Linked DNA regions of Homo sapiens. The protein of the gene in region 4 interacts with the protein of the main gene of each other region in a biochemical or structural test. Each region holds a gene or a part of one and is shown on either strand. Other genes may lie near its edges.

What was found. The genes of interacting proteins can lie anywhere in the genome.
Region 1: the proteins of GOPC (region 4) and F11R interact in a test that uses a peptide from one of them, tested with the Homo sapiens proteins (one large-scale study listed by IntAct).
Region 2: the proteins of GOPC (region 4) and TANC2 interact in a test that uses a peptide from one of them, tested with the Homo sapiens proteins (one large-scale study listed by IntAct).
Region 3: the proteins of GOPC (region 4) and ABCC4 interact in a test that uses a peptide from one of them, tested with the Homo sapiens proteins (one large-scale study listed by IntAct).

The regions. Positions count from the first base shown.
Region 1 is NC_000001.11:161,000,653-161,004,152, forward strand, and holds part of F11R (junctional adhesion molecule A isoform 1 precursor), read right to left. Parts: intron 702-3,500; coding exon 633-701; intron 476-632; coding exon 368-475; intron 126-367; coding exon 1-125. UniProt on the Homo sapiens protein: Seems to play a role in epithelial tight junction formation. Appears early in primordial forms of cell junctions and recruits PARD3.
Region 2 is NC_000017.11:63,354,235-63,357,734, forward strand, and holds part of TANC2 (protein TANC2), read left to right. Parts: intron 1-548; coding exon 549-1,156; intron 1,157-3,500. UniProt on the Homo sapiens protein: Scaffolding protein in the dendritic spines which acts as immobile postsynaptic posts able to recruit KIF1A-driven dense core vesicles to dendritic spines.
Region 3 is NC_000013.11:95,067,452-95,070,951, forward strand, and holds part of ABCC4 (ATP-binding cassette sub-family C member 4), read right to left. Parts: intron 1-3,500. UniProt on the Homo sapiens protein: ATP-dependent transporter of the ATP-binding cassette (ABC) family that actively extrudes physiological compounds and xenobiotics from cells.
Region 4 is NC_000006.12:117,568,012-117,571,511, forward strand, and holds part of GOPC (Golgi-associated PDZ and coiled-coil motif-containing protein), read right to left. Parts: intron 2,945-3,500; coding exon 2,849-2,944; intron 1,848-2,848; exon of another isoform or gene 1,726-1,847; coding exon 1,561-1,725; intron 1-1,560.

The DNA of each region.
Region 1 (3,500 bases), on a different chromosome or scaffold from region 4:
GACCTCCCCATAGCTGTTGCCGCCTTCCTCAGAGACCATACAAGTGTATGTCCCAGTGTCTTCCCGTGTCACGGACTTGAAGGTGATACCAGTTGGCAAGAAGGTCACCCGGTCCTCATAGGAAGCTACCACAAGAGGAGGCAAGAGCAAGGACAGAGTGAACTGGAGAGCTAAGGGAGGCTGATGAAGGGGGCATCCAAGGTACGCAAGTGCTCTCCTCTTCCCCCAGAAAGGGGGGTAGGAAGGCCATGAGGACTTCAGCCCCAGGGTGTGCCCTGGGATAAGGGCACAAAGTCTGGATCGTAGAATCCAGGCATGATAATCCCTCCACAACCTAGGCAATCAGGAAGGAGGAGAAGCAACTCACCTGTGATCTTGTTATTATAGCAAACGAGTCTGGTGGTGTCTCCTTGGTCAAACTTCCACTCCACACGGGGAGAAGAAAAGCCCGAGTAGGCACAGGACAACTTCACAGCTGCAGACAGGGTCAAAATGAGCCGAAGGAAGAAGCAGCAGCAAATACACGAGATGGGGAACAGCCCCAAACTGCAGGCTGGGCTGGGTGCTCTCTAGATCCCCAGGCGGCCGGCAACTGCTCACCCTCACACCCTCCATGGCCCCTCCCAACTCACGATTATTCTCAGGAATTCTGACTTCAGGTTCAGAAGAGTGCACTGTAACACTGCCCAATGCCAGGGAGCCTAAGGAGAAAGAAAGAGGTGGGCCCTGTCAGGAGTGGACAGAGAAATGCCAGGAAGAAGGAGTCACAGACCCAGTGGACAGGGCTTCTCCATTCACAGACCCTAAGAGGAAGGGATTCCAGACTTATGCTCCCTCTGGCTCTCACACTTTGTCACCATGATCCTAAATGTCTTCTTTAAGTGCTTTTTGCTACAATTGCCAGCTAATACTTCTTTTATCCATGGGAATGCAGTTTCTTTTGCTTCTAATTTTTCTCTCTGTGACTCCCAATAATCTAATTAGATTTCTACTAGTCCAAGGGCAGCTTCCAGAATGACATTTCACTGTTCAGAGAAAGCTTCTCAACAAATGATTGCAGCCACTTGTCAGGACAATCCTGGAAGGAAGCCAGCAGGGCTGGAGGCAAGGGATGGAAGGGAAGGGCAGAGCCATGATGAGGATAATAATAATACTCGACATTTGTGGAGCATGTGGTGCTTTTAAAAGTGTTTTCGTGTACATTATGACACGTTGCATCATTTGATCCTGGACACAAGCATGACAGATCGGCAAGACGTATATTATTATCCCGAGTTTACATGAGGAACTGAGAGTACAAGAAGTAAATGTGCCTAAGATCACACAGCTGGGGCCAGGTGCGGTGGCTCAGGCCTGTAAACCCAGCACTTTGGGAGGCCGAGGTGGGGAGGTCATGAGGTCAGGAGTTCAAGACCAGCCTGGCCAATATGGTGAAACCCCATCTCTACTAATAATACAAAAATTAGCCAGGCATGGTGGCACACCTGTAGTCCCAGCTACTTGGGAGGCTGAGGCAGAAGAGTCGCTTGAACCCGGGAGGCGGAGATTGCAGTGAGCCGAGATCGCGCCACTGCCCTCCAGCCTGGGCGACAGAGCAAGACTCAATCTCAAAAAAAAAAAAAAAAAAAAAACACACAACTGGTTCTGAGGTGAAGTTTGCACTAGAAGTGGGTTCAGATCACCTCATTAGAATATTCTACTTGCCAAATGGAGAAAGAAAAGAAAAGATAGTGTGTGCTGGGTGGAGGGAGGGAGAAGCAACAAGGCTAATTAAATAATATGGGGGAGGTGCATCAGGGTTCATAGGAGGGACCCACAAAGGTCAAATTAAGAACCAGTGACCAGGGATTCTGGGATCACATGATGCAGCTACAAACCTGCACTTACACAATTATTCTCATCCATGTTTTCAAAGTCAAATTCATGAAATATCCTTTTATTTGTAGCTTCAAGTCAGGACCCTGTCTTAGATAAATGTTTGTAGAAGTCAAGCACATCTGTTAAATTCAAGTACATTTTTCTTTTACTTAATTATGCACATAACTGAATATGGTCTCTTGACCTCTGAGACTCCCCTTCCTCTCTGAAATATGAAATAGATGTGCTCTAAAGTCCTTTAGGTTCTTTTTTTTAAATTTTGGCATTAATGTTTAGATAATATTTGTATACCTGTATTTCAATCTGATATAATAACACTATGAATTAGTCCAGATAAGTATTCTCTCTCCCATTTTATAGATAAGAGACTAAAGATATAGGTTACTCCTATATCCTTTTTCTCTTATTATACTCTCTATTTATTTGTTTTTTTTTTTTTTGAGACGGAGTTTCACTCCTGTTGCCCAGGCTGGAGTGCAATGGCGCTATCTCAGCTCACTGCAGCCTCTGCCTCCCAGGTTCAAGTGATTCTCTTCAGCCTTCCAAACAGCTGGGATTACAGGCGCTTACCACCATGCCGGCTAATTTTTGTATTTTTTTTTTTTTTTTTGAGACAGAGTTTCGCTCTTGTTGCCCAGGCTGGAGTGCAATGGCGCAATCTCGGCTCACCGCAACCTCCACCTTCCGGGTTCAAGGGATTCTCCTGCCTCAGCCTCCCAAGTAGCTGGGATTACAGGCATGTGCCACCATGCCCGGCTAATTTTGTATTTTTAGTAGAGACAGGGTTTCTCCATGTTAATCAGGCTGGTCTCGAACTCCCGACTTCAGGTGATCCGCCCGCCTCAGCCTCCCAAAGTGCTGGGATTACAGGCGTGATTAAGCCACTGCACCTGGCCTAATTTTTGCATTTTTAGTAGAGATGGGGTTTCACCACGTTGGCCAGGCTGGTCTCAAACTCCTGACCTAAAGTGATCTGCCCGCTGCAGCCGCCCAAAGTGCTGGAATTATAGGCGTGAGCCACGGCGACCGGCCTAATTTTCTTTTTTTTCTTTTGTTTTTTTGTTGAGACAGAGTCTCACTCTGTCGCCCTGGCTAGAGTGCAGTGGTGTGATCTCGGCTCACTGCAACCTCTGCCTCCCACATTCAAGAGATTCTCCTGCCCCAGCCTCCTGAGTAGCTGGGATTACAGGCGCCCGCCACTACGCCTAGCTAGTTCTAACTAGTTTTTTGTATTATTATTATTATTTTTTTAAGATGGAGTTTTGTTCTAGTTGCCCAGACTGGAGTGCAGTGGCGCAATCTAGACTCACCACAACCTCCGCCTCCCAGGTTCAGGAGATTCTCCTGCCTCGGCCTCCCTAGTAGCTAGGATTACAGGCAGGCGCCACCATGCCCGGCTAATTTTGTATTTTTAGTAGAGATGGGGTTTCTCCATGTTGGTCAGGCTGGTCTCGAACTCCTGATCTCAGGTGATCCACCCGCCCTGGCCTCCCAAAATGCTGGGATTACAAGCGTGAGCCACCGCGCCCGGCAATTTTTTGTATTTTTAGTAGACAGGGTTTCACCATGTTGTCCAGGCTGGAATTTCTTTTTTTTAAAGAGCTGGGTTCTTGCTACATTGC
Region 2 (3,500 bases), on a different chromosome or scaffold from region 4:
CCAAGCTTCCTACTGTTAGAAGTGTACCTTTCGGCTAAGGTATCTCCAGAAGGCCCGCATTTAAATGTAGTCATTTTATACATCTGTGTTGTGTGGGAAATTTTTTTTTAAATAGTCATTTTATTAGGAGAGTTAGAAAGCCAACTTTTTCTAAGCCAGTCTTTGAATCTTTGTACATTTCTCTTACTGACTTGTACTTGGCATTATGCCCTGGTTTACACTGAGAAAAATTACAGCAAAAGAGTTATACAGTGCTCCGTTTTCTATTTATTTCAGGAGTGTTGTTTAGAATGACGATCATGAAATCACTCCAAAAGCACTCTTTACAAAGACCCATTTAAAAATATATCTTAAGTCTCAATGTTAGGAGAAGTTGTGTCCCTTCTATGCAACTAATTTGTTTTACTTTTTGGATACTAATACTTGATCATGTTTCCCTGTTTGGCCACTTCGAAGTTCAGAATACATTTGTGAACCTCATAGTTTATCACAAGAGTTAGGGGAAACTGAAGGTCTTTCTGTCTCTTTCTCTCTCTCCATCTTTTTAGGAAATTACCAAGCTGCTGCCTTTCCATAGGATTTTTTTGGATCGACTAGAAGAGAATGAAGCCATAGACCAGGACCTGCAGGCTTACATCCTGCACCGGATACACAGCAGCTCAGAGATCCAGAATAACATTTCACTTAATGGCAAAATGGACAATACTACATTTGGCAAACTCAGTTCTCATCTCAAGACCCTCAGTCAAGGGTCCTATCTATATCTGAAACTTACATTTGACCTCATAGAGAAAGGCTATCTAGTGTTAAAGAGCTCTAGCTACAAAGTAGTTCCTGTTTCGCTCTCAGAGGTTTATTTACTCCAGTGCAATATGAAGTTCCCAACCCAGTCTTCCTTTGACCGGGTGATGCCTCTCCTGAATGTGGCAGTGGCCTCTCTCCACCCACTGACTGATGAGCATATCTTCCAGGCCATCAATGCTGGGAGCATTGAAGGCACACTAGAATGGGAGGATTTTCAGCAGAGAATGGAGAACCTCTCCATGTTCCTAATCAAGCGCAGAGACATGACTCGTATGTTTGTACATCCTTCTTTTCGAGAATGGCTTATCTGGAGAGAAGAAGGAGAGAAAACCAAATTTCTCTGTGATCCGAGGTAAGACATATATCTGTGATAAACAATTCTGAGTCTGTTTTCTGTTTATTGCATGGAGTGTGAGTATTGAAAGTAGAAGTGTTCTTCATTGAACATTTCACATAGAAGAGACATCATCTGTGTTTCTTCTCAAGGCAAGGCTATAATGAGGTTAACTAATTTATTGTTTTACAATGTTATTTCCTTAAGACTCAACATCTGCATAGATATTTAGAATGCTATCCTACGTTCCTGTGTTCTTCTAAATAATTTTCACTGACCCCACAGGGTTCACAGGCTATAATTAAGTTAACCATTTAATGGACTTCCTCAGTATTATTATTCTGATATGAAGAAAGAATTGATATATTGTAAATCTCTTTGATTTAGGGCAGAATCATTTCAAAGTTTTTATTGCCCTTTTATAAAACCTTATCATTTTTAAAGTTTCCAGTGACTAAATCCATTAAAGTCCAGCCAATGCTAAGCTTTATACTAGAAAATACAATCTTAAACCTCCTAGCTGAAAAAGATTTGAAGAGATCAGCTGGTCTATCCATGCTGCCTTTAGATACGTAAGGTGTCATTATCTCCATTTTGCTATAAAGGCCTTAAGATGCTGGATCAACTTGCACAAAGTCATAAGGTTAATACATGGGAGAAGGGAGGGGCACACACCAGAATAGGGATCACAAGTGCATGATATATCCCACCACTCCCCACCCCACACGCACAACAGGATCACTGATTTACCCCAGCACTCTTTCCCAATGAGCTTGAACCTGACTTGAGAATCTTTCTCAACTCAAACCAGACTAGATATGAAACTGTTTCCCTTTTTATTGCATGAAACCTAGTTCTCTGGCATCCTGGTCGGGGTGTGCTTTTACTCCGTCATACTAACATTTTTAAAGACGTATTCCTTTAATAAAGTTGGTGTTTTCAAAAGCCGGGTACATTACTGACTTCATGGAAACAAAGAAGACACCAACAACATAGCTGGCAAATGCAGAGCTTATTTTGGCTCAAAAAGAAGAGGCCAGATTTGACTATGCCTCACATGTGACTCATCAGAAAGAATAAAACTCTGTGTTCATGCTGGGGTTTTATTGCCCTTCACCGTGTCCTTCACCAGGCCTTATTAGAGACAACTGTACTGTGGGCATGCTGCTCAGCCTACTCCATGCTGATTCATCAGAAAATTAGTTCCAGATTATGATGAAGATATTAAGCCAGGCAATAGACTTTGTAGCATTTTCTCTGAGAGGGAAGCTTTTTTAAAGAAACATGCTGTAGTGGAAAGAACATAAACTCTTGAGTCAAATTACCTGCATATAAATCCTGCCTCTTCTAGGAACTTTGACCTTTGGAAAAAGTTACATAGTGTTTCTAAGACTTAGTTTTCTTATCTACATAAGAGCAATAATAATGCCTTTTTTCTAGAGTTGTTGAGAAGTTAAGTGAGGTCATATAGTATGATGCCTAGAATAGTACAGAGTAAAAGAAACACTTGGGGTATGTTCTTTTTCCTCCCCTCACCCTGCAGTAATAGACCCTTCTGGTGTATCTTAGTTAAATCCTGTGGCTAATCGGATAGCGACAGCCATCTTCTGCTGTTATCATTTTGGAGCACAAGATTTTAAAAAGAAACAATAAAAACAATCCAAGTCCCTTCTGTGAATTGTATGATGTTCCCAAAAGGATTTTACTATAAATCCTACTAGAGCTGTTGTCAATATTTAATACAAAGAACTGGCAACTATGTATATAGGAAAAAGAAACTAATGTAGAATTGCCTAATAAACGCTTTGAGATCAGTTCCCAGAGAAACTTTGCTAGCTGATCTGGGACCTTAGATCCTGGGACATCTCAGAGGATTGAAAGCTGAGGTCCAAGGCAACCAGACTACCACTGAATTAATAGTATCCTTACAACAGATGAAATCCTCAGGGGCTCTCAGAGGAGAAAATACGGCTTTTATACAGCCATATCATGACTATACAGGCTTTGCCTTCTCAACATCGCATTTTAACTAGGAGTTTTGCAGCAACCGACTGATGCACTGGGACAAGAGGAGCAGGTACTTCCAACTTCAAATCCTGTATAATCCGTTCCCTGATGATTGAATAGCATGGCTGCTGAGAGATCATCTTATTTCACTTAATGGCAGAGAGTAAAATTGTAAACAGGACCAGGAGTTATCAAAAAAAGCTTTCTTAGATTTCATTTCAGTTGGAACTCAGCCCCCTCCCCAGCAATGGCTGGCACCAACCTTGTTACTAAAGTACTGAAGTATTGATCTCAGTGCTTAAGGCTCCCTAGGTCAATGAGATGGAAATTCACTAAGAATTTAATGCTATTGGCA
Region 3 (3,500 bases), on a different chromosome or scaffold from region 4:
AAATCACAGATTATTAGTCATCCAAAATTGCTTACCGGAGAGCAACGGCTTTAATGCAGGGGCAGGAGTGGGGGTGGTTCTTGTCCCAGTGCAATTTTAATCAAAAGGGTGGGGTGGGCCTGACAGTCTGCATTTCTAACATGTTTCCAAGCAGAGGCAGGTGATGCTGATCCCAGCCCCTGAGATGAGCAAGCAGGCAGGGCAAGTGGGACAATCTGGCTGTGAGAGGAGGGGTTTCTCAGCAAACATTAATGTAAAAAAGGAGAGAATATAAGAAACTAATATTTTTGCACACTATAGCAAGGTCTAGTACACATCTGTAAAAAGGTATTATCCAAGTAATAGCTTTGAGCAAGGAAAAAAAAATAACAAACCAAAATCAATCTACCTCTAGAGCTGAAAAATGCTTTAAAATGGCCCAGTACTCTCTAAAATGATTAAATCAACCACAAAACCATCTAAATGAAAAATGCAGCCAGTGTTTGGAATCTAACCAGGAAGGCTAGGGTGGTATATACCTCATTTTGGTTCATTCTTTTTTACTTGCTATTTCTTCTGTGAATTAGAAACCTACTTAGCGCCTATTACTTTTTCCTATTTGTTATAATGTCCAGGAAATCTGAGCAGATGAAGCAATTGAAAGAGAATGAAGCCCTGTTTCTGCTGTGTGGACACATTCCTACATCTCCACTGGAAACAATGCCCCTCTCCATCAGCTCCAACAGCAAAGGGACTGCCTGAGATCCTGGGGCTGCAGGCAGGTGTGGAGGAGACGAACCCTGAATATACACACAAAAAGTGGAACCAACTCACCACGATGTTGCCTGAATACACAAATGAAGCTAAAGGTGACACTGTGAGTGAACCAGGACACAAATCAAAAGCCAAGTGGGGCTCAGCGCAGTGGCTCATGCCTGTAATCCCAGCACTTTGGGAGGTCGAGGCAGGTGGATTGCTTGAGGTCGGGGTTCAAGACCAGCCTGACCAACATGGTGAAACCCCGGATCCACTAAATATACAAAAATTAGCCAGGCATGGCAGCGGGTGCCTGTAATTGCAGCTACTCGGGAGGCTGAGGCAGGAGAATCGCTTGAACCTGAGAGGCAGAATGAGCCAAGATTGCGCCACTGCACTCCAGCCTAGATGACACAGCGAGACTCTGTCTCAAAAGCCAAGTGGTTGTAGCTATAATTCAGTCTTCAAATTCAATTTACCCTCCCACATTTCAGATCTCAGGTAATCCTATGATTTGGGGGGGTTTTAAGATGGAACGATATCAATGTGGGGATATAGGTTGTTTTCTAATGTGTACAACAGAGGTTTGTAGATAATTCATATTTTATGGCTACAAGAGAAATTTACAACGTGGCCAAACTAACAGAATGATGTTGATCAGGTAGGACCTAATAACACATTGTCTGAGAGTAAGCAAACATCCCCCTGGCCCCATCAGGAACAGAATCTGAGAAACCTTGCTTTCAGCAAGAGCTACAGCTGATGCTGCCTGCAGAGTGGTCTCCACCTTCTTCACACTCACAAGGATGCTGGGTAGATAATGAGGAATCAGCTTTTGCTGGTTCCCTGGGTATCTTCTGGGCATGAAGCTGTATATTTATTTTTCATGGCACAAGGGTATCATTCATTCAATTGTGACTATAGCCCATTAAATGGGTCTGTGGTGGGAAGAGCTGAAAAGAGCAGTTCCGAAAGTATCTAACACTGACACCCAGAGAACGGGCTGTTGCGGGAGCTGTCGTGTGTGTTTTGTTACCGATTTCTTTGTATGTGCATATCCCTCACTCTCACAGGCACCCACCATGTGCCCTGCAGCATGCCATTTTCTGGGGGTACAGAGACGAATATAAAATGCTCCCTGACTTTAAGAGGCTCAGGGTACTGTGAGATGCTGACCCAGAATTATAAATCATGCCATCGTGCTATCTTCTTTAAAAAAAAATTGTGGTAAAATACACAAAAGGTACTTTATGTACTTTTCAAATTGTGGTAAAGTAACATAAAATTGATCATTGTAATCACTTGAAAATGTTCAGTTCAATTATATTAAATACATTCATGTTGTTGGGCAACCGTCACCATCATCCATCTCTAAAACTCCATTTATCTTGTAAAACTGAAACTCTGTACCCATTAAACACTAATGCCCATTCCCCTACCCCTGCCGCCCACCATCCTACTTTCTGTCTCCATGACTAACTACTCCAGGTACCCACATGTAAGTGGAACCTTATAGCACCGTCCTTAGGTGTCTGGCCTAATTCACTCAGCATAATGTCCTCAGGGCTCATCCATGTCAGAATCACACATGTCAGCATGTGTCAGAATCACCTTCTTTTTAAGTCTGGATAATATTCCATTATGCGTGCGTATCACATTTTGTTTTTCCATTCCTCAGTCAATGGACACTTGGGCTGCTTCCACCTACTGCTCACTGCAAATAATGCTGTTATGAACACGGGTGGGCCACAGATGTTACATTAAAGAATCTGGCCAGGCATGGTGGCTCATGCCTGTAATCCCAGGCATGATTTGGGAGGTTAAGGTGGGCGGATCACTTTAGCTCAGGAGTTCGAGACCAGCCATGGCCAACATGGCAAAACCTGGTCTCTACTAAAAATTCAAAAATGAGTTGGGTATGGTGGTGCACACCTATAATCCCAGCTACGGGGGAGGTTGAAGCAGGAAAATCGCTTGAACCTGGGAGGTGGAGGTTGCAGTGTGCCGGGAATGTGACATTGCACTCCAGCCTGGGCGACAGAGCAAGACTCTGTCTCGAAAAAAGAATCTATAAGATGATGTGGAGAATATAGTTTCAAAGAGGCAGAGATGCTTGAACTGACTGAAAAGGGTGCACACTAAGAGCAAGGCAGACAGGTGCTTGGGGAGAAGGAGGGCACCCTGAGTGCAGGGGATGTGTGTCCATATTGGGAGTTGTGAGGAGAGGGGTGGGAAGGGGAAGAGATTCTACTGTCTTGTTTGTTCTGGTTTAGTTCCTTCAAGAGGCTGTCCTAGTCCTAGCCAAGGGCCCCAGGACACATGTGAAAGGGACATTGCTGGCAGACTTAGATACCTGCAAAACCAGCTCACAAAACTCCACACAGCCTCCCAAGTCCCTCCTTGTTTTCCTTTCACTGACTTTGAGTGAGTCTCTGGTGCCTTTACTGCCTCCAGCTTGGGGGTCTGATTTCTGAGCACTGATGGGGTCATGGGATCTGGGTCTTCCCTTGGGGGCTGAGAGCCAGACAGGTCCTGTCAGGGTGGGCCTGGGGCTCATTAAGGTTGCAGCAGCTGCTCACCCAGGCAAGGAGCTGGCCACGTAAGGATCAGATCTGTGATCAAACTGTTTCAGAAAGAAAGAGTTTGCAGTGAAAGGGATGGGGAGGGAAAGCAAAGCACAGGTTAAAGGAAGGCAAGAAAGACTAAGGAAAGGGCCTGATAATGTTTGGCTGTGTCCCCACCCAAATCTCATCTTAAATTCCCAC
Region 4 (3,500 bases):
AAAACCCATCTCTACAAAAAAAAAAAAAAAAAAAAAAATTAGCTGGCCATGGTGGCAGGCATCTGTAGTCTTAGCTACTCAGGGGGCTGAGGTCGGAGGATCTGTTTGAGCCTGGGAGGTTGAGGCTGCAGTGGTCCGTAATTGTGCCACTGCACTCCAGCCTGGGTGACAAAGTGAGATCCTGGCTCCAAAAAAGAAAAAAATGTTACAGATCGTTTTATGTTAAAAGAAAAATTTCCAAGCTATAATTGTCATTTAATAAGAGACTCCAACCACTACATATAAGTGTGGTGTTGGCAATTCTGAAAACTATGGCTTGCCTTTGCTCAAAAGAAAACACGGCATTTTTGACTGCTACTCACTAAGTTAGTCTCTTTGGTGCTCTTCTTTCCCAGCAGTTTAAGGTTATACCTCAGAATTTTAATATGTGCTTAGTTAGCATTTCCTTAAAACTTATGGCTGCCCATTGATAGCTCCTTCACCAGTTATCCCACTCTTTTGCTACTGGATGACAGTCAAGATGGATTGATAAAACACTAACTTAAGAGAATAGCGTAGCATTCTTAGATCTCTCTTGTCAGCTAATGCTTTAAAAATACCATTTTGCAGAAAGAGACAGATGATGCAGTGGTCTTCAGCAAAGTTTTAGATGACAGAATTAGATCTGTGAGTAGCTGTCATGGAGACACAGATTTCAGGCTTAATATGAGAAAAAGCTTTCTAAAAATCAGTACTGTATTACAATGGAATGGACTGGTTGATATCAGCAAGTCTTCCCTGTAATGTAATTATTGAAGTAGTGATGTTGCAAAGATTTATGCATCATATAGAATTGAACCAATGAACAATATTCACTTTCAACTCTGAGATGCAATTCTACAGAGGCATACCACACTGATAATCCAAGAAACATCTCAATGTACTACCAATGCCTCTAATTCCCTCAACTCTATTCTTGAAAGAAATAAAATAAAACAACATTTTAAGTACAACTGTATGACAAATATGACTCCTGAGTATGAATCTCAATTCTATAATTTATTTGCTTGGCAACTTTGAGTAAATCCTTTCATCGCTAAGAACTTTAGTTTACTCATTTTAAGAGAGTTGGGCTAGATAGTTTCTATGTGTGATTTCAATTTTAATATTCCATGACTAAAATCAATCTACTTCTAGCACTGTCTTTTCTGTAATACCTTATATATAGTGTTCTAGGCATTAAGGATGTTGTTTTTTCAGTCTCAGGTCCTGTTCTGAGTACTTTATATGTATTAACATACTTAATCCTCACAGCTTTCTTTCAATCCCTCCCACACAGGTGAGGACACTGAGGGACAGAGGACTTAAGTAACTTGCTCAAAGTTATGAAGTAAACAAAATGGAATGGTCCATTTTCAGTAAATCTGACTGAATGTCAGCTATAAAAGCATTAAATCAAAGGAAACAAGAACTATGTGTAAACACTTTACTACTTTAGAAACTTCGTAGGGAAGTATACAGTGTTCAATAGATTCATAACCAATTGATAGATCCAGTTCTAATTACATGAAGGGAATTTACCTGCTGAGAAAGAATAGTTACAGCTTCTTTATGCTTTGTGTCCCTTAGGTTAACTCCGTTGACTGCCAAAATAGCATCCCCAACGTGCAGCCCTCCGCATCTATCAGCAGGTTGCCCCGGATGGATCTCAGAGATGAGGATTGGAACACCATGTTCTTTCCCACCCTAACAACAACAAAGGGCAGTAAATTAAAGTACTCTTTGTAAGGTACAGTTACCGATTAATCTAGAGATAAAATATTTTCTTAAAAATATATTTCATTAAACACCTATGCTGTCTCTATAAATGCTGGGTAAAATTTTATTTGCTACTTAAGTAATGGTAAAAATTATCAGAGTATTGAACAGAAATTGGCTAAATTCTTAAATTAAAAAAAACTTATGTGTTAGTACTCCATAGCACCATTACATTTTATCAAGTCTAAATCACTACGAATGACAAGACCAATTATTTTAGGTGCCACAAAAATAATTTTAAGATTATAAGATAAATTTCAATTTCAGAGAAGTTAAAATATGAAAATATATGCAATGTAGAATTGAAAAAATGCAGTATTTGGTACCTATCACTCTCTAGCTTATATCATTGTTGCGTGTGTGTAGGGGTGTGTGTGTGTGTCTTATTTGTCCTGCTAAAATGTATGCTCTTTGAAGGCAGCACATAAAAAAAAAAAAGGTAAGTATTCAAGAAATATAGATTAGATGAGCTTTTTATTATAAGAAACATTTCTACATTAAGCAATACTAAAAAAACAAATGATCTTGCTCAGTGCCTAAGTATTACCAAATGAAAATTAAAGCCACCTTATTCATTAAAGCACTGAGATGACAACAAAATGACTCCTAAAGGCATCGAATTTAAAAAAAAGAATATATAACATTTGGACCCAAGAGCCAGTGAAATCTGACAGCTAATAAATGAGGCAAGAGAAAGATACACGTACTCCGAGAGAGAACAATACAATCTGAAGCCATTTAACATAGAAGAAAACAGCCACGTCTATTCCCAAGGGCTCCTAGAGGCATCACAGTATATGGCACAGAACTATTAAGTGAATCATAATAAAAATGTTAAACTATGCTTACTAAAGGTACACTTAATAGTTGCTAGGAATATTTATTTCTTAAAAAAATATTTACACAAAAGCAAACATTTATCCCCATGGGGATAAATTTTAGTTATTTAAAAAATATATCCAGAATATTCTGTTCCCCAGTGATGTCCAACAAAGGAGCATGATTATACTAGATAACTGTAGAAAATGATACTGGAAGTACTACTTCTTACTGTAATTGAAATGCCAAGGCCTTCATGATCTTCCTTAAGGAGGAGAACTTTTCTAATTGGACCAACACCTTGGCTTTTCTTTAGGGAATCTTGATCCTTATTGGGAGGAAAAAAGAAGAAAAAGTAGTATCATTTAAATAGCATACCAAATAGAGTAAACTCATACTATATAACTTGCTTTTAGAAATCTGTATTAACTTCCTGGAATGGATAAACAGTATAGGGTTAAGAAAGTAACAGATAAAATGGAAAAATGAAAATAGCTATTCTGTTGATGCAAAATTTATAGATGATATTCTCACCCTTTTGCCAATAATGTTTAAAATATTGATACATCTCTTTTTAAATTGTAGGGCATTATAAAAGAAATGATTTCCAGGAATTAATTGAGGAACAAATATCCTCAAAAAATAAAAGTGTCTATCTTCACTGGATATCTTTAAGATATACATTCATTTTAGCTGAGTTGTAGAGTTGAAAAACAAATTTCCAATTGGACCATTAATTACTTATACATTCCTTGGTGCTCTGGAGTCTACCTCTTAAATAAAGGGCCTTGATCCACTAATAATCTTTTCTCTGGTACCCTTACTCTTTCTGTCTCTACTAAGCTGTTTTCCTACTCAGCAGATAAATGAATCACAAGCCTCTT